Homo sapiens: one gene and its partners. The protein of the gene in region 1 interacts with the protein of each later gene in a pairwise test. Each region holds a gene or a part of one and is shown in the gene's direction. Other genes may lie near its edges.

Region 1 (4,586 bases):
CTCAGCCTTGTGGGCTGAGCCTATGATGTGGAAAGCTTACAGGAGGGCAGTGTGAGCCCCTGACTGCATGGGGCAAGCTGTCCGGTAAAAGTATAATGCCAGCTACTCATGGAATTTAAAACTTTTCTAGTAGCCACATTAAAACAGAAAAGAAAACAGGTGAAATCGATTTTAATAATAGATTTTATTTAACCCAGTATATTCAAAACATTATTTCAACATATAATCAGCATAAATAACTTTTAATGAGCTATTTGGCATTCTTTCTTTTGGTACTAAGCCTTCAAAATCTTGTGTGTATTTTATACCACAGCACAGCTGATTTTGGACCACAGCCATATTGCAGATGTTCAACACATGGCCGGTGGCTGCTGCATTGGCTGCACAGGGTTAGCAGGTCTGGGGTGATGAGAGTTGAAAGTGATCTTCCTTGTCTTAGACCTTCCCCTGAGAGCCTGAACCAGGCTTCTCGCATCAAACCTTTGAACAAACCTGCCCAACAGCTAATTGGTACCTCAGGGAAAAGAGAAAACCTGGGGGATTTTGTCATGCATGGGTTATATGGTGCAAAAAAAAAAAAAAAGAATTCCCTGGTGTTTCCCAGATTCATGTACATCTCCACAGCACAGACCTCGCTGGACAGCAAGTTACTGTGTACCATTTATTGAGCCTCTGGTATGGCCTGTTCATCCACTGCATACTTCAGATAATACATTATTTCTAATTTTTCGATGTCTGCAAAACAGGTTTCTTACCCATTTTACAGAGGAGGAGAGTCGGGACGTGAGAGATTTAGTACCTTGTCCAAGATCGTTTAACCAGATGGGGCAGAGCTAAGGCACAAACCTGACTTCAAACCTGTGTTCCTACCATTCCTTAATAGGATCTAACACTCTGTGTACATTATAATCTCCAAATCGGAGAAAAGTGCATATAAGAAGTTAGCATGTGTGCATACATGCATATCTATATACATAAGTAGGAAAAGACGGGAAAGTTCTAATCACAGAAAAAAAATCACAAACAATTCTGTGCTGAAGAATGCGTCCCTGCTTTCCTCCTCTCTGCCTCTGGTCTCCTGCCCACACATACTGGGGACCATTTGGAGTGTCCCCATGCTGACCGGTTGCCGTGGGTGTGTGCTGGTGGGGGGTAGGAGCATAGCAGGTGGAGTTTCATTAGAATTAGTAGAACTCAGGCATTTGTGAAGTTTCCGTTTCCCTGGTTAGGGAAGCTAGAGGCCGTGGGGCACTGGCATTTGAGAAGCTGGAGGCTGCAGCTTCCATCCTGCCTGAGCTGCTTGCTGGGCAGAAGCCAGGCTGAGCGTGTGAGCTTCATTTATTTCTCTCTGCAAGGGGCTGCTGAACCATGATGGGGGCACAAAGTGGGCGAAGGGCGGGAAGATAAGTGGGGTACACCCAGGAAGGTGGGGACTGTCCAGGCTTCAGAGTCACAGATGTGGGTTTGACCTTTGACTCTGCCAGTCCTTTCTTTTGTGTCAGTGGCAGGGCCTTGGATTCTTCCTTGTGAAACTGGAGCAGTCATTTTAGGCAGAGCTCTTTCCAGTGTAAGGGACAGAGACCCCTTGGAGCCAGCCAAAGTTGAAAGAGGCGTTCATCACATACAGAGACACGTCGGAGTACCCTGAGGACAGGAACCTGTGTAGAGCTGGCCTCACAGGGGACTCGACTAGAAGGAGGAGAGTGTGGAGGCTTCTCTTGTGGCCTCTCTGGAGTGCTCCCTCCACCCCCAGGCCTCTCTCCCACCTGGCTTCCCTGGTGACTACAACTGTGTGATTGTCCAACTTCAGTGTCCATTCATGTCTCTTAGATTCTTGAAGTAGAGGCCAGTTGGCCCAGCTTCTCCTTTAGGCAAGCCCACATTTCAGAGGTCCTAGCAGATGTGCTTGAGCCAGCCCTGGCCCAGGAGGCCGCCCGGTGCAGCCCCTGGGCCCAGAGCCATGGTGAGGCGATCCTTAGCCCAGAGGGAGGCGGGCATGGACAGTGCTCTGTGGTGGCCTTTCCACCCTCCAAAAGTGATTGCTTCTTGATTTCTCTTTCCCTGAGTCTGCCTCCCAACTTCCCAGACTTTAAGCTGAAACCTTCTCCTATTTCATTGAAAAAAACAGAAGCCTTTAGTCCCCCAACCCTCACAGTACGGAGCCACCCCTCGCCCCCAGTGCCATCTTCCTACCTCCTCTTGTTGAGTTCAAAGGGTCCTTTGCCTCTCGAAGGCAGGTCTGTCCATTCAGCTTCTTGTCTTGCTCCTACAGAGACCTCTTCTTTTTTCAGTGTCAGGGTTTTCTCCCATTCTATTAGACCCCTCAAACATCATTCTCTAGTTTCGCTTATTATTTAAAGAAAAAGAAAGAAAAACCATTTTGGCCACACACATTCTTCCCACAAAACTTCAAAGCAGTTTTCTGCCCTGGTGCTGTTTGGCGTGCTGGCATGCAGACCCGTCATCACAAGCTACCGGAAGACAGAGGGGCTTGCAGCAGAGTGTCAGCCAGCTCTGCACTGAGCACGTGCCACTGACAGTTTTTCCCTGGCCAAATATTCCCGAGGAAGGAAGCAGTGCGTTCGCTTATGTTCTGGCACAAATGCCTCTGTCTTCTCACAGTTGACCTTCTTGACTGTCTTGGTCCCCACGACAGCACGTTCTCTTTTGCCTCACTCCTTTTCTCTGAGTACCCCATGCTTGCTCTTCCCCTTCCTGCCCTGTAGCTGTCAGGGTGAAAGGACTCAGTCCTGGGCCCTTTCTCTGCCTGCCTTGGACATGATCTCTCTTAATCCAATAGTTGATGACTTCCAAATACAGATCTTCAGCCCAGACCCAGCTCCTGACTCATTTATCCAATTGCCTCCTTGATATTATTTCCATGACGATGTCTAAGAAGCATCCTCACATGCAGAGCACTCAATGCGCTTCTTGAGTCCGCCCTTCCCCAGTGCCCATGCCCTCCCTGGCTCAGGCCACTCTGCCCTCTGCCTGGTGCTCTTCCCAGCTTTTTTCCTGGTTGGTCCCTTTTCACCATAGGGTCCCCTCCCCAGTCGTTATCTCAGAGATGCTTTCCCTTGCTGCCCCAGCTCACAGGTGAGTGAGAGCAGAGACGCTGCTCCTCCTGAAGCCTGATGAAGTACCCAGGATTCAGACGGGCATGTTTGCCCTTTAAATCCTGACCAGACCGGCCCTGGCCCCAGCAGCTTGAGGCTTTTTTCCATGCCTCCAGGAACTTCTGAATGCATCTTACAAATGTTGAGAACTGGTCATTGTGGAGGCTGGGGCCTTTGAATGTCAACTACACTTGTGTGGGTGGATGCAGACAGCAGCATGAAGTGCAGGAGGGAAGTCAGGCCCAGCACTGCTAGCCAGCCAGCCAGGGCATGGCTAGCCCCAGGCCTGGGGTGCCACCTGCCAGTCCTGTGAGGAATTTGGGAGAGACAGCAGCGGGCTCCGACAGGCCATTAGCTCCACAAGGAAATGGCCACGAATCAGAGTGCTGCTAATGGCTTGTTTCTTTTTAAACAATTTTTTTGAGGCCGTGTCGGAGAGAATAGGCTGCCATTTGCAGCTTTGAACAGGAATGCTGTCCATTGCTCTGTTAGAAGCCATGGGGTATTTACAAACTGGGTGACTGTTGGCAAGACATTTTTCCCCTTTGCTCCTTGGTTTCCTCCCTTCCGTGATGGGGATAATAAAGCCTGTCTGTCTGACTCACAGGGCCGTTGGGGTGTGTTCCAGGTGTTGGTATGTCAGCTAGCACGAATTCGCCGCCCGCTCTGTGCCAAGCCCTGAGTTATACAGCTTCCTACTCCATCCTCACCACGGTCCCGCGAAGGTGGGCATCACTCAAGGCTGCAGTCAGGCTTAGAGGAGCTCAGTGCACCCGTCCCTGGGCCGCCCACGGGTATGGGTGGAGATGTCTCAGCCCACCTGTACCGCGTCCCTGCGGGCGGGCAGAGCTCTGGGTACAGATGCATTTGTTTTCCAGATTCTCACAGTCATCCTTTAAGACAAGCTGTTCTCATTGTTCAGATGATGGCATGGAGGCCTAGTGGAGTTAAGTGACTTGCTCAAAGCCATTTAGCCTGTAAGTGATTGGTCCTGGATTTGAAGGCAAGTCTGCCTGGAAGTCCTTTGGAAGACTTGAAAAGGAGAATTGGTAAAGCCAGGGGTTCCTATACCTTTCAGGCCTTAAGAAAGTAATAGTAGGTGTTTTTTTTTTTCTCTCTGTTCCTTATTTCATGAAGGAAATTATACATTTGCCCAAATGGCGCTTCCCTTAATATTTGCTGAACCTTAATGTTTGCTTTTGATTGGCATTATGCCATCCTAGCACAATAATATTTGTCATCTCATACCTTAGGAAACTCTGCCTGATTTTGAATGATACAAAAAAGGTTTTGGGGTCTAAATGGAGTGAGAGGAATGGTAAGAGATTAAGTATCCCTCATAAAAACAGGATGGTGTCAGTAAGACCTTTCCCAACTCTGAGTTCACATTCTACCACCTCGGTCACTTAGGTGTAAATGTCATCTTCCTCCTCAAGATGATGACAGGCCACCCACTACCCTGGGACAAAA
Region 2 (4,876 bases), on another chromosome or scaffold:
TTCATATGCAACATAGGGTGCTTATTGCATTTACCAAATGCTCTGCAGAAAGGTTGGATCTGTACCCCAGCCCGGGTACAGGGCTTCCCAGGCCCTGCCAACTTGCACATTGTTTTCTTTTTGCCTTTACCTCACCGACGCAGGAAAAATGAGCTCTCCCTTGAATCAACATTTCCTCAATTGCCTGTGGGTCTGCATTTTTCATGACTGTGGGCCACTGGTATCCTTGTGAATTGCTTGTTCACACATTAGAACTTGTTGGTTTTTTTTAAACTGAATATTCAGTTTTCATTGATGTGTAAGACCTCTTCATAGATTAAGACTACCGAACCAACCTTTGACCTATGCTTTCCAAATATCCTTTCCCGAATTTTTCACCTGAGTTGGTTGTTTTCCATTATTAGGGAGCCTCAGAAGCTTTTGCTTTCTGCTTTGTATGCAGTCAAATCTGCTGATCTCTCTCTGTCCCTCTTTTTTTTTTTTTTTTTTTTTTTGTTCTGATTTCTGCCTTTGGAGCCGTGTTTAGGTCATAATCAAAGGCCATGCCTCAGTGTCTCAGGGAAGGTATGTTTGCTTTTATTGTCTTCTAACACTTATTTCTTTTTTTAATGCTCCAATCCTCAACATCTAGAGTGTACTTCATGGAGGGATCCAGCTCTGCGTTGTCCCCCGGTCTGGATGACCCCATGTGACCTCTAGAGCATCCAATGGCCTTTGGAGCTGCACCCCACCCCTGTGCTCCCCAATGCTGTGCCAGCTCCTCACTCCAGGGTCCTGCCCAGCCCTGCCCTGCGTGCCCACCCCCCCCCCCCCGCCATGCCTCATACCTGCCTGTCTCCCCAGGCACGTGCGCTAAGCTGCGGCTACCCCCGCAAGCAACCTTCCAAGTCCTTCGTGGCAATGGTGCTTCCGTGGGGACCGTGCTCATGTTCCGCTGCCCCTCCAACCACCAGATGGTGGGGTCTGGGCTCCTCACCTGCACCTGGAAGGGGAGCATCGCTGAGTGGTCTTCAGGGTCCCCAGTGTGCAAACGTAAGGACCCCTCTCTCAGCTCGGTGGCTCTGGGGGTGGGGGATGGCCCCAAATCCTGTCATGGGGATGGTGTGGGTGGGGATGGCGTGGGTGTCTACTCACAAGCAGCTAGGCCAGTGTGTAGGGTCCCATTCCCAACACTGACAGCTTGCTTACATGTCAGCAGCCGGCTGTAGGCCCTCAGCCCTCCCAGTGCCATGTTGGCAGCACGGACCGAAAACCTAGTAGCGGGCCTCCAATCCTGGCTCTGCTACCGACTCAGCCCCTCACCGCCAAGAGGCTGTGCATGCTCTCTGAGCCAGCACGTTTTCATCTGTTAAGCAGGAAACTATGTTTGTTCATTCATTCATTCATTCATTCATTCATTCATGTACAGGTGCACATGGCCAACTTTAATAGGATATTTCACGTATCAGGAATCTTAAGTACTGGCAACACGGAAGGTCATAACGTGCCTGGCCCTGGAGCTCCCAGTCTGTGGGAGGCAATGGTTTTCTGGTTGTATTTCTTGTACAGGTGTTGAAAGGTCCACAAGATAGTCCCTTTTCAGTGCCCAGCATGACATTTCCAAAATGAAGCTATGTGTGTTATGTTCATGTGTTTTGTGCATAAAAAGGGCTCAGAGTCAAAATAGTTTGGCAGATTCTGGGTTTTTATGCTGCAGAACTTCTCAGAGCCTTTAAAATGTTCACGTGCTAGGTGATTCTCTGAGGATGCGAGTGTTAGGATTAGATTCTGAAAGGCAGAAAACCCAAAATACTAGGATTAACTATGATGGAGCTCAACCTTCAGGGTGGGCAGGCAGATCTGTATAGGCTCCATGGCAGTGGGAGCCAGGCCCCTTCCCTGGCATGGCTCTGCTGGGCATGGCCTCAGCCTCATGATTCAAGATGGCAGCAGCTATGTTCCAGGCAGCTGTTATGGGGTGAGGGGCCCTGGGGCCAAAGAGCAGGCCCCAGTGTCTCAGGGAAGGTTCTTAGAAGTTGCCCCACATCACTTCTTATCTTCCACTGGCCAGAACATGGTCCTGTGACCACTGGGAAATGTAGTCTCCATTTTGGGTGGCCAGGATCCACTAGGGAGCATGGGAAATGGGGCAGGGGACAGGGCCATGTTCTCTACGTGGGGGAGTAAACGGTGTTGCTCAAATTAGGATTCCGAGGCCTTTTTTAGCCAGAACATCCAGTAGAATCTGATGGAACTAGTTTTTGGAGCATAGCTGAGGTCACACAGCAGATACATAGTATTTTGGACCTTCCTGGAAAGTGACCTGAGAAGGCATGTAGGCCCCCTGAAGAATGTTGCCACCTTGGGGCATTGTGAAAACCCAGACCATGGGCTGGGCAAGGCCTCCTCAGTACTGTCTATTGTCACCTCCTCTCTGTGGCCCACCCTTCCTTCATTCCTCAGGCAGGACTTCAGTGGGTAGGAGCCAAGGAGGCCATCACTCTGAACTCCCTGCCAGAACTTCTGTAATTGACCACTCTGCAGACTTCTACATACCCTACAAAACCCTGCTCAAATACCCTCTTCAGTTAGCCACTCTGCACACTCCTACACACCCTGGAAAACCCTGCTTAAATACCCCCTTTAAATAGCCACTCTGCATACTCCTACACACCCTGCTCAAATAACCTGCTTCTTGGGGAGAGTCTTCTCTGATAGTCCCACCTCCAAATATAGTTTGCACAGATCTTTGCCTCAGCCCCCAGCACCTCACTGCCCCCTTACCATGCAAACAGGGCTCACTGAGGGCTGCCCAGGCCCTGTCTACACCCAGGCCCTACCCGTACCACCCCTGAGACCCCCAACCCCTGGGCCAAGCAAATCTGGGCAAACCTCGCCCAGGAGCTGGTGGTTGTCTCCCACACAGTGGTGCCACCACACGAGACCTTTGGCTTCAAGGTGGCCGTGATCGCCTCCATTGTGAGCTGTGCCATCATCCTGCTCATGTCCATGGCCTTCCTCACCTGCTGCCTCCTCAAGTGCGTGAAGAAGAGCAAGCGGCGGCGCTCCAACAGGTACGGTGGCCTCATGATCTCAGGGTCCTCCCGGGAGGCGCCTCTTGGCACCATGGGAGGAGGAAAGGACAGAGTGTTTCAAGGGAACCCCGGCACTGCCCTCAGGGCACCCGTTCCTACCACTGCTGCTCTGGGCCTGCGTCTCCCCCCCAAGTGCTGCTCCCGGCCCACGCAGCAGCCAGGGGCAGCATCACAGCTGGGGGACATGTGGGCCCCCAAGGCCCTGCTCTTAGGCCAGGCTATGGGTTCACGGGGGATTATTTTATTTATTTATTTTTTTTGAGACGGAGTCTTGCTCTGTCACCCAGGCGACAGAGTACAGTAGCGTGATCTCAGCTCACTGCAACCTCCGCCTCCTGGGTTAAAGCAATTCTCCTGCCTCAGCCTTCCTAGAAGCTGGGATTATAGGTATGTACCACCACACTCGGCTAATTTTTTGTATTTTTAGTGGAGATGGGGTTTCACCATATTGGCCAGGCTGGTCTCAAACTCCTGACCTCTGGTGATCCGCCCAGTGATCTGCCTCCCAAAGTGCTGGGATTACAGGCGTGAGCCACCGCGCCCGGCCCGTTTTATTCTTAAACCTGCACACATATGCAGTATGTACTCTGCTGTGTTAACGGCCTGCAGGGCTGCCACACACGCCCCCTAAACCTTGAGAGGGAGTCACTGTCACTGCAGATGGAGGGCTGGTTAACCACAGCCCACCAGCGAAGTCCGGCTGTCTGTCAGGTTTTTTCCCCATGGTAATTTATTATTATTTTTTGTTTTTATTTTTTATTGTGGTAAAATATCAATACATAAAACTTAACCTTTTTTTTTTTGAGACGGAGTCTCACTCTGTCGCCCAGGCTGGAGTGCAGTGGCTCCATCTCAGCTCACTGCAAGCTCCACCTCCTGGGATCACGCCATTCTCCTGCCTCAGCCTCCCGAGTAGCTGGGACTACAAGCGCCCGCCACCATGCTCAGCTAATTTTTTTTTGTATTTTTAGTACAGACGGGGTTTCACCGTGTTAGCCAGGATGGTCTCGAGCTCCTGACCTCATGATCCACCTGCCACGGCCTCCCAAAGTGCTGGGATTACAGGCATGAGCCACTGCGCCTGGCCAAAACTTAACCTTTTTAACGTCTACAGTTCAGTAGCATTAAGTATGTTCACGATGTAGTGCAGCCATTAGCACTGTCCAGCCCTAGAACTTTCCACCACCTGTATTTGTAAGTAAAGTTTTATTGGAACACAGCCATGTTCATTGTCTACTGGTGTGTGGCTACTTTTGGGCTGCAATTGCAGAGTTTAGCTGTGGGAGAAATCATGTGTCTCACCACACCAAAAACATCCACTGCCCAGCTCTTTGAGAGGTTTGCCAGCCTGCACTGGTCCTGCAGACGGTGCCCTGGGCCTACATGGAGCCTGTTTCCACCACCGTCAGGGATACACCTGCATGCTCAGAGTCCTTCCTCCCAAACTCTCCTCCAGGTCAGCCCAGCTGTGGTCCCAGCTGAAAGATGAGGACTTGGAGACGGTGCAGGCCGCATACCTTGGCCTCAAGCACTTCAACAAACCCGTGAGCGGGCCCAGCCAGGCGCACGACAACCACAGCTTCACCACGTGAGCCCGGGTCTGGGTAGGGGACATGCTGGGGGACAAGGGGTCCAGCTTGGTCAGGCCCCGGGCCACCTGCTGCTCCCACACGCTGAGAGCCTGCTGCTCCCACACGCCTAGCCCACCCAGAACCTTAACTCCCATCTCTAAAACAAGAGGCTGGTGGTCCTTGTAGCACTCTGTCCTGACTCTGACATTCTAGGACTCAGAACTGCCCCCA
Region 3 (4,876 bases), on another chromosome or scaffold:
GGGATTTGTTAAGTCCTTGGTAGCTGATCATGCCTGGGAAGGTTTCCTTGAGTCTTGACCTGGGCTCTTTGAGCAGAAACAATGACACAGCCTCATGGCCAGAGCCATGCAAGAGATTAACCAGACTGCTCATTGCAGAAACCCAGATCATGACTACTTACCAAGCTGGGTGTCTGTTTCAGTTCTCAGGCTGCATAGCCAACCAGTCCAGAAGTTTGGCTCAGAACGCAGCTTCTTCTCTTTCACCATTCTGTCAGCTTGACTGGGCTCAGCTGGCTGGTTCTTGCTTGGGCTCCCAATGCAGTGGCAGTCGAACAATGGCTGGGCTGGAGTCTTCTGAAAGCCAAACTCATCTGATGGCCCAGATGGCTCCTCCCATCACAGATTTGACAGTTGATGCTGGCTGTTGGCTGGGAGCTCAGCTGGGGATGAAAACACAAGGCCTCCGCATGTGTTTGGGAACCAAGGCGAAAAGCAGCAGGCTTCTTAGACCTCACCTGTCCAGCGTCTCTTCCGCTGCCTAGACTGCTTCTGTTGTCAAGCCACTAAAGCCCAGATTCCAAGGGAAGAGGATTAGATGACACCTTGATGTGAGCAGTTGCATAAGAAGGGAGGGAATGGAGGATGGCTATCTTTGGAGACCATCTACCACAGTGCTTCTGGGGAATCTACACAGAGAGCATGTCTTATAACTTGCACAGTGGTACCATATAGACTAGTGGAAGACCTGTTGACCAGGCTTAGTCCCTGCCTTCAGGGAGCTCCTTGTATGATGGAGGAGATACAGCTCATGTCATCATAATTGCTTTATCAATGATCATGATCAGAGTATGATCAAGGGAAATATCATTACTTAAGTACTGACAATAGATCAATATCAATTTATCTTAGAGAACGGGCTGTGTGTGTGTTGGAAGCAAGGCCCACTGGTTTGACCACCCCTCCTGTTCTTGGCCTCACTCTCTCCTTCCTCAGGATATGGCAATGTGGCTCCCAAGACCCCCGCCGGTCGCCTCTTCTGTGTTTTCTATGGTCTCTTCGGGGTGCCGCTCTGCCTGACGTGGATCAGTGCCCTGGGCAAGTTCTTCGGGGGACGTGCCAAGAGACTAGGGCAGTTCCTTACCAAGAGAGGTGTGAGTCTGGTATGTCCCCTACCCTGGGTGTTGGGCAGAGATGGGGGAACCATGACAGGTGAGGGGAGGACAGGAGGCCTCTAGGAATTGGACCAAGGGTGTAAGGACAGATGGCAAGAGGATAGTTTCAGAGCTCCTTGCCCTCCCGGGTCAGGCTGGGTACCCAGCTAGCTTCTCCTCTAGCTGCCTCCCTGGCCCTCTGGGTGCCTTTGCTGGGTTTCCAAGTCTCCACTATTCTCTGACTTGGCCTCCTGCTCCCCATCAGCGGAAGGCGCAGATCACGTGCACAGTCATCTTCATCGTGTGGGGCGTCCTAGTCCACCTGGTGATCCCACCCTTCGTATTCATGGTGACTGAGGGGTGGAACTACATCGAGGGCCTCTACTACTCCTTCATCACCATCTCCACCATCGGCTTCGGTGACTTTGTGGCCGGTGAGTCCCTGCCTCTGCCTCCCACCTCTTTTTCTGCTTCTTTGGTTTCAGTGCAACAGACCTATGTTGGGGGTGCCCTAGGTAGGGTTCCATGTTCTGGGCACTTCTCTTACCCAGTGGGATTCTCAACCCACTCTGCCATTTGCAAGAGGAAACTAAGACCCAGAGTAATGACAAAAAACTCTTTTCTCTCTGGTTCCCTTTCTCAGACATGGCCTTTTTCCTCCTCCTTTCCTCTCTGCTCAGTCTCTGATCTCCTCTCCCTCAGTTCTCCCATGACTCCTGAGCTTGGCTTCATGGGGGACTTGCAAGTAGGGCCTTCTGCCTGCACGGTTGGTACCTGCTACCCAGGGAGCCCCTGAGCCCACCAGCACCCACTCCACGCCCTCAGCAGCCTTTCATCTTTCACAAGAGTGGAGGGAGGTGTCCTGAAGGCATGGCTCAGAGGCCTGGGGCTTTGTTCCTGCTGTAGCAGCTTAAAGACAAGGGAGGCCTTCTCCCCAGCTGCCCTGCCCCCAGCCCTGACACTCCCTCCTACTCCTCCCCTGCTTAATCCAGGGAAGTGATGAGGTTCTTTGGCCCCTTTGTCTGAAGGCCTGTTACCAGCTGGCCCCAGCCACACATGTACTTGTGTTTGTGGCCTGCACAGCATCTTGGTTCTTAATCTTCTTGACACCCTGTTTGACCCTGTTGACCCACCACCCCAGTGACCTCAACTTCTGCTCCAGAGGCCTCTGTTCTGTACCCCCTCCCTTTTGCCCAGAGGGCAGTGGGAGGCCACTAGCCTTGTGCTTGATGTATGTGGCATCTGGGAGCAGTTGGCTGAGTTGGGGGAGGAACAGGAAAGAGAGGCACAAACACTCCCCTGACCCTGCCAAGTCCGGGCCTGCTGTCCTGGGCAGTACATGTGGACAAGGCACAACCCTGCCATTGTCCAGCCCTTGAGGCCCAGAGCAGGCTAAGGAGGTGCCTCTGGTATTAGGGAAATACAGATGTACACTTAGCCATACTTTCTCAGCACCAGCAAGACACCAAACCCTGCCTCAGCTTTCTCTTCTGTAAAATTAGTAAAAATAATAATTACTATTCATGAGTGTTAAGGGTAGGGCCTGGCTATATCAGTGTGTGCCCTCATTACTGTCATCATGAAACTCTGCTTGTGATTGAGAGCCTTGAGCAGGATTAACAGGACCACTCAGGGCACCTGCTATCTGAGCCCGGTCGTGGGAGGAGAACTGACCGGGCTACAGCACCTGGAGGAACCTCTAGTCTGATGAGAGAGGTAGCCCCCTTCCTCCAGGTCCCTTCTGTAAGTTGCTCTTGTATCTAGTCGAGGGGGCAAATGGAATACAGGTCAACATGCCTGTACATGTAGTCGTCAACGACATTTCAAATAATCCTGGAGTGTAGGGGGAACCTTCAGAGCTGTAGGGGGTAAGCCAAGAAGGCTCCCTGCAGCAGGAGGGGGATGTGGAGCAGACAGAGCCCTCCTCCAGGTCAAGGGAGAGCTGATCTGAGGAAGTCAGGGAGGCAGACCAGACCTTCAATGAAAATAAAAATGGTTCAGCGTTTCTTGCCACGGTGGGTGCTTCCTGGGTCATCTCAACCTAACCACCAGCCTTGTTTGTAATCCACCAGTGTGAGTCTAGCCCCAGCTTGGAGGGTGCTGGGGGCTCCCTTGTGTAATATCCATCCATTCCGTTTTTAAGTGAACTGTATCATATACGCAGAACAGCTGGGGATGGTAGAAGAATTAACAGAAAGGCAAATACTCATGAACTGTTTCTTGACCTGTGTGTCGGTTACATTGCCAGTCCCCCAAAGCCCCTTTAGCTTCCTTCAAAGAGTCACTGTCTTGACTTTTTTTTTTTTTTTTTTTTTTTTTGAGACGGAGTCTCTGTCTGCTGCCCAGGCTAGAGTGGCAGTGGTGTGATCTTGGCTCACTGCAACCTCTGCCTCCCGGGTTCAAGCAGTTCTCCTGCTTCAGCCTCCTGAGTAGCTGGCCCGCCACCATACCTGGCTAATTTTTGTATTGTTAGTGGAGCTGGGGTTTTACCATGTTGGTCAGACTGGTTTCGAACTCCTGACCTCAAGTGATCCACCTGCCTTGACCTCCCAAAGTGCTGGGATTGCAGACGTGAGCCACCATGCCTGGCCTGTCTTGACGTTTCTAGTTGAGGAAACCGAGACTCAGAGACAGGCTGGAGACTGGGATGGGGTCATGAATGATGGCAGGCCCAAGCCCTTGAGGAAGATGGGATAGTCCAGGGTCTAGAACAGGCCCCTTTCTATCCCACTGCACCCCCGTCCTGTGCTCTGGCCTGACCCCTGCTCAGATCACACAGCATTGGCCATTGCACATTTCCCGGGCCCTGCTAACTCTTCCTGACCTCTGGACTGCCTGTCCGCTCAGGTGTGAACCCCAGCGCCAACTACCACGCCCTGTACCGCTACTTCGTGGAGCTCTGGATCTACTTGGGGCTGGCCTGGCTGTCCCTTTTTGTCAACTGGAAGGTGAGCATGTTTGTGGAAGTCCACAAAGCCATTAAGAAGCGGCGGCGGCGACGGAAGGAGTCCTTTGAGAGCTCCCCACACTCCCGGAAGGCCCTGCAGGTGAAGGGGAGCACAGCCTCCAAGGACGTCAACATCTTCAGCTTTCTTTCCAAGAAGGAAGAGACCTACAACGACCTCATCAAGCAGATCGGGAAGAAGGCCATGAAGACAAGCGGGGGTGGGGAGACGGGCCCGGGCCCAGGGCTGGGGCCTCAAGGCGGTGGGCTCCCAGCACTGCCCCCTTCCCTGGTGCCCCTGGTAGTCTACTCCAAGAACCGGGTGCCCACCTTGGAAGAGGTGTCACAGACACTGAGGAGCAAAGGCCACGTATCAAGGTCCCCAGATGAGGAGGCTGTGGCACGGGCCCCTGAAGACAGCTCCCCTGCCCCCGAGGTGTTCATGAACCAGCTGGACCGCATCAGCGAGGAATGCGAGCCATGGGACGCCCAGGACTACCACCCACTCATCTTCCAGGACGCCAGCATCACCTTCGTGAACACGGAGGCTGGCCTCTCAGACGAGGAGACCTCCAAGTCCTCGCTAGAGGACAACTTGGCAGGGGAGGAGAGCCCCCAGCAGGGGGCTGAAGCCAAGGCGCCCCTGAACATGGGCGAGTTCCCCTCCTCCTCCGAGTCCACCTTCACCAGCACTGAGTCTGAGCTCTCTGTGCCTTACGAACAGCTGATGAATGAGTACAACAAGGCTAACAGCCCCAAGGGCACATGAGGCAGGGCCGGCTCCCCACCCCACCTTTGA
Region 4 (4,876 bases), on another chromosome or scaffold:
TGTTTCTGATAAATTTGAATGACTGTTATATCTCTCAAACTTCTGAATATTAGGGCTTCAAAGATAATAAAGACATCATATTTGTGTTCAAGGAGCTTATCTAGTGAAGGAGTACCACTGCTTTTTGTGGTAATAAACTAAACTTTTGGGAATGTGGCAGCAAGAGCTGAAGCTATTTGGAGAAGGCTGCTCTTAAATATCATTCCTGTTAGACAAAGCCATCTGAAAAGCCACTTCATAACATAACAAAAACTATTATATTTTTGTAGAAGACTAAATATTTATCTCTAATCAGCATAAATCTTTTACAAACTTGCCCTGTAACTGAATCTATTTTCAGTTGACCTTTTCTGCTTGGATATATTTCATTTCACTCTTAACTGTGCAGGCAGGGAGAAGTATTGGATGAGAGCTGTAGAAAGGGGTCCATTTAAGAATGAACTATCCAGTCTTGTTTAAATGCCATTAGTGGGGAAAGAGCAAGTACAGAAGGAAATATTGAAGATATGGGAAAGGAAGATACCTAAGAAGACATTAAGGAGGGAATCTAAATAAAGCTCTTGTCATAGGACAGGAGAGAGATTTTCCATTGAAATGTTCCCATTTCCATGCCTTTCATTCTCTCTTATGCTTTTTGTAGTCTGGCTTCTAATTCTACCACTCTAGAATTACTCATGCAGAAGATGGTTAATAAGCACATTGTCTCAGTTTCATGGATATTTTCCCCTTTTCTGTAGCACTCAGTGCACTGGTTCTTACTTTGACTTCTGAGACATCTCTTCTGATTTTCTTCTTACCTCCTTGAGTATTTCTTGCCTAGCTTCTTCATGAATTTCTTATTCCATGAACTCTTCTTCCTAATTAGGACTCTTCTACAAGCTAATGTCTGGAGAGCAGGGCCTCTGTCTTACTCATCTTTGGTCCCTAAAGGCCCAATCTGATTCCTAGAATACAACGAGATGCATTGAATTTTTGTGGAAGAGAATGACTTTCACCTCCCAACTGACAGTGTTTTCTGGGCCCTGCTTTCACTGTCCATGTTCCCTGGGTGATCCATCCAAAATTCATTTCCTTAATGGCCACCTCTAAGCTGTTAATTACTTTCTGAGTTACAGACATGTATAGCCAGCCAACTTCTTACGGGATAGATGATTCAGACTTGTTTTCAAGTTTAAGCTTGAAACAGTATTTTTATCCCTGGACAAATCTTGCTGTACTCTCTTTATAAGGAGAATAACACCATCATCTACACAGTTTCTCAAACTAGAAACCTAAGTCATCCCATGTCTCTCTTTTGCTTACCATTCACATACAGTCATCCAATTTCAATTGCTAAATATTTCTTGACTATATTGCTGCTTTATGAGCTCAATTGACCTTACATTAGTTTAGGTTCACATCACTAGATTATTGTGCTATTGTTTCTAACTTTTCTCCACTTCACCTGTCTCTCTTTCAATTTACCTTCAACACTGAACAGATGGTGTTCCCTCTGAGATGTAAATCTATCATACTATGTGTGTGCTTATAATCCTTTATTGCTACACTGTCCAATATGGTAGCCAGTAGGTACAGGTGGCTATTTAAAAACTTATGTTACCTGGGCACAGTGGCTTACGTTTGTAATCCCAGCACTTTGGGAGGCCAAGGTGGGAGGATCTCTTGAGTCCAGGAGTTTGAGACCAGCTTGGGCAATATAGTGAGATCCTGCTTATTATATTTATATATATATATGTGTGTGTGTGTGTGTGTATAATATTCACACACATGTGTAGGGGGTATATGTGTGTGTGTATATATATGTGTGTGTGTAATATATATGTATATACACATACTGGGTATAGCAGTGCAGGCCTGTAAGTTCCAGCTGTTTGGGAGGCTGAAGTGGGAGGATCACTCAAACCTAGGATATTAAGACTGCAGTGTGTGATGATCACACTACTGCACTCCACCTTTCATGACAGAGCAAGACCTTGTCTCAAACAAAGTTAATGAAAAATAAAATGTAAAATTCCAGTCCATTAGATATACTAGCTGCATTTCTTTTATTTATTTAGAGACAAGGTCTGGCTCAGCTCACTGCAACCTCTGCCTCCCGGGCTCAAGCCATCCTCCCACCTCAGCCTCCCAAGTAGGTGGGACTACAGGCGCACGCCACCACACCCAGCTATTTATTGTATTTTTTATAGAAATTTGGTTTTGCCATGTTGCCTAAGCTGGTCTCGAACTCTTGAGCTCAAGTGATCTGCCTGCCTTGGCCTCCTAAAGTGCTGGGATTACAGGTGTGAGCCACTTCACCCGCCAACTAGCCACATTTTGAGGGCTAAATAATCACATGTTGTTAGTGGCAACTGTATTGGACAGAACAATGCAGAATATGTCCATCACTGCAGAAAGTTCTATTGGGTAGCACAATTCTATGGCATTTCATGGGATCAATGTTCATACTCTTTAGTATTTAATTAGCTCCTTAATCAGATTTTTTGGTGTTTTTGACATGGAGTCTCCCTCTGTCACCCAGGCTGGAGGGGAGTGGCACAGTCTTAGCTCACTGCAACCTCCACCTCATGGATTCAGACGATTCTCCTGCCTCAGCCTCCCCGAGTGGCTGGGACTACCGGCCATCATTTTTTATTTTATCTTGTCTTCCAGTCTCTAGTGAACTATATTTTTATGCAAGTACATTTTTCAAGGATGGAATTCTTTGCATTCTTTCTTTATTCTCTTGTTTAACTCCTGGTTGTCTTTGAAGATGAAATGGAACATGTACTCTACTGGGAAATCTCTGTGATTCCAGACCATTTTGAGAATACCTGTGTTATGACATTATTTCCAGGGGACTATAATAGGTGGTTCTGTTTCTGTCTTCTTTTCTACACTGTTTGCTTTTTATACCTTATTTAGAAAATAGTAGATTTTCACGTTTTCTGAATTAATATCAAAAGGAAATAAGAAATAATGTATCAGGCTGGGCATGGTGGCTTATGCCTGTAATCCCAGCATTTTGGGATTCTGAGGCAGGCAAACTGCTTGAATCCAGGGGTTGAGACCAGCCTGGGCAATATAGTGAGACTTCATCCCTACTAAAATGAAAAAAAGAAAAAATTAGCTAGTTGTGGTGACCTGTGGCCCCAGCTACTCAAGAAACTGAAGTGAATCACTGGAGTCCAGGAAGTCAAGGTCGTACCCCTGCATTTGTACCCCTGCATCCCGGAAACAGTTGAGGCCAAGGTCATACCCCTGCATTTGTACCCCTGCATTTGTACTCCTGCATCCTCAAACAGATGAGATCCTGGAGAGAGAGAGAGAGAGAGAGAGAGATCGAGAGACAGAGAGAGAAGGAGAGGAGAGAGAGGGGGAAAAGAGGAGAAAGAAAGATAAAGGAAAAGAATAAAAAAGAAATAATGTATGTGAAATCAAAACATGTAAATGAAGATTAAAAATGTGAGGTAGCTGTGTGAGAGTGGTGTTAACATCAATCCTGCAATAATGTAGTCATTTTAACTCATTTCAATTCCATACTGGAGCCTCATGATATATGCTTGTGCAGAGAAGTCAGTTTTTTTAACAGGTGTATATTTGCATGTATTTACCCAAGATAATGTGCAGATTATTCACCAGTGTATATCTAACATGACTGCAGTCCTCAGGGTATTAGAGTACAACCAGAAAATGCATTCCTCTGTAATTGATAGAGGTTGAATGTGGGACAAAATGGAGAAACTAGATTGAGATGCTTCTGGTTAGTTATTGCAAAGTTTTTCTGAAAACAAAATCAATAGCATTTGAACATTACTATCAACTGGTAGCAATGCTCAGGTGGTATCTACCAATACACTCTACCAGTGTTTCTGGACCCATTGCTACAGCAAGCGTCTATTCTGACTAGATGGTCCTTATGCCCTGCCAGTTGTTAAATAGCTAAATATCTTGAGTATCACCTCTACTCCTACACTTCAAAGTTCCTGAGTTCTTTTGTCATGATCTCCAGTGCCCATTGTAGTATTTCTCTTCTATATTATTGCATTTGATTCTAATTTTATCTTTGGTGAAGACTACATTTAAAAAATTACTTAGGTTTGATCTTTTCTAAAATATGAGAAATATGGTAAAATGTTGAAATTGGGTTGAAAGATATGTTGGTAATTTGCATTGTTCAGTATGATATAAAACATATCTAGAGAAATACTTAAATCATAAATTGAGAATCTTATAGTAATTGAAGTTACTTTCTTAAGAAATCAGGTTTTCCTTGGCGTTTTTGGATAGATTTTTATTGCTATATTCTTTAATAATCCTTTTTTTTTCTGGAAGAAGAAAGTGGTATAGAGTTGAAAATTCATAGAACATGAAGATATTGACTGTTGTGAGATTTTGGTTGGCATGTAATGTCAATTCTTTCTGTGTAGCCAAACTGTATTATGTTTTTGTAATGTAAAAGGGGTAATATATACTATGGTTTGACTTTAGTTATACTGTAATTTTATGTATTCACCAGTTATCTCAATAGTAAAGCAAAACATCCAAAAGATAAAACTGTCTCTATGTTTCTATGCTAATTAATTTACATACATATGAGTATATGTGTAATTTTCCATGCATGCCTTTATTCCTCTAGTTAATATGATAGTTTTAGTTTTAACTTTCTTTTATTACTGAAATCTATAGAACATAAATTCACATTATTAATATATGTTACATGTTAATAAAACACATGACATAATTATAACCTTGTGTTATCACTTATAATTGTTTAAAGGAACTATTATTTTTCCTGTCATTATGTATACTGTAGACACCTTAAATTTATATAGATGTATACAAAAAACCTTATAAAATTATTTGATAAGTGTTATTTCAGCCTCAACTCTGAGGT

What was found.
Region 2: the proteins of SMCO4 (region 1) and SUSD3 interact in binary tests that used the Homo sapiens proteins (3 or more experiments, as listed by UniProt).
Region 3: the proteins of SMCO4 (region 1) and KCNK5 interact in binary tests that used the Homo sapiens proteins (3 or more experiments, as listed by UniProt).
Region 4: the proteins of SMCO4 (region 1) and FAM174A interact in binary tests that used the Homo sapiens proteins (3 or more experiments, as listed by UniProt).

What each region holds. Positions count from the first base shown.
Region 1 is NC_000011.10:93,480,686-93,485,271, reverse strand, and holds part of SMCO4 (single-pass membrane and coiled-coil domain-containing protein 4), read left to right. Parts: intron 1-4,586.
Region 2 is NC_000009.12:93,074,941-93,079,816, forward strand, and holds part of SUSD3 (sushi domain-containing protein 3), read left to right. Parts: intron 1-495; exon of another isoform or gene 496-542; coding exon of another isoform or gene 543-564; intron 565-843; coding exon 844-1,032; intron 1,033-2,905; coding exon 2,906-3,053; intron 3,054-4,530; coding exon 4,531-4,662; intron 4,663-4,876. UniProt on the Homo sapiens protein: May play a role in breast tumorigenesis by promoting estrogen-dependent cell proliferation, cell-cell interactions and migration.
Region 3 is NC_000006.12:39,190,860-39,195,735, reverse strand, and holds part of KCNK5 (potassium channel subfamily K member 5), read left to right. Parts: intron 1-975; coding exon 976-1,142; intron 1,143-1,398; coding exon 1,399-1,567; intron 1,568-3,980; coding exon 3,981-4,846; 3' UTR 4,847-4,876. UniProt on the Homo sapiens protein: K(+) channel that conducts voltage-dependent outward rectifying currents upon membrane depolarization. Voltage sensing is coupled to K(+) electrochemical gradient in an 'ion flux gating' mode where outward but not inward ion flow opens the gate.
Region 4 is NC_000005.10:100,541,114-100,545,989, forward strand, and holds part of FAM174A (membrane protein FAM174A precursor), read left to right. Parts: intron 1-4,876.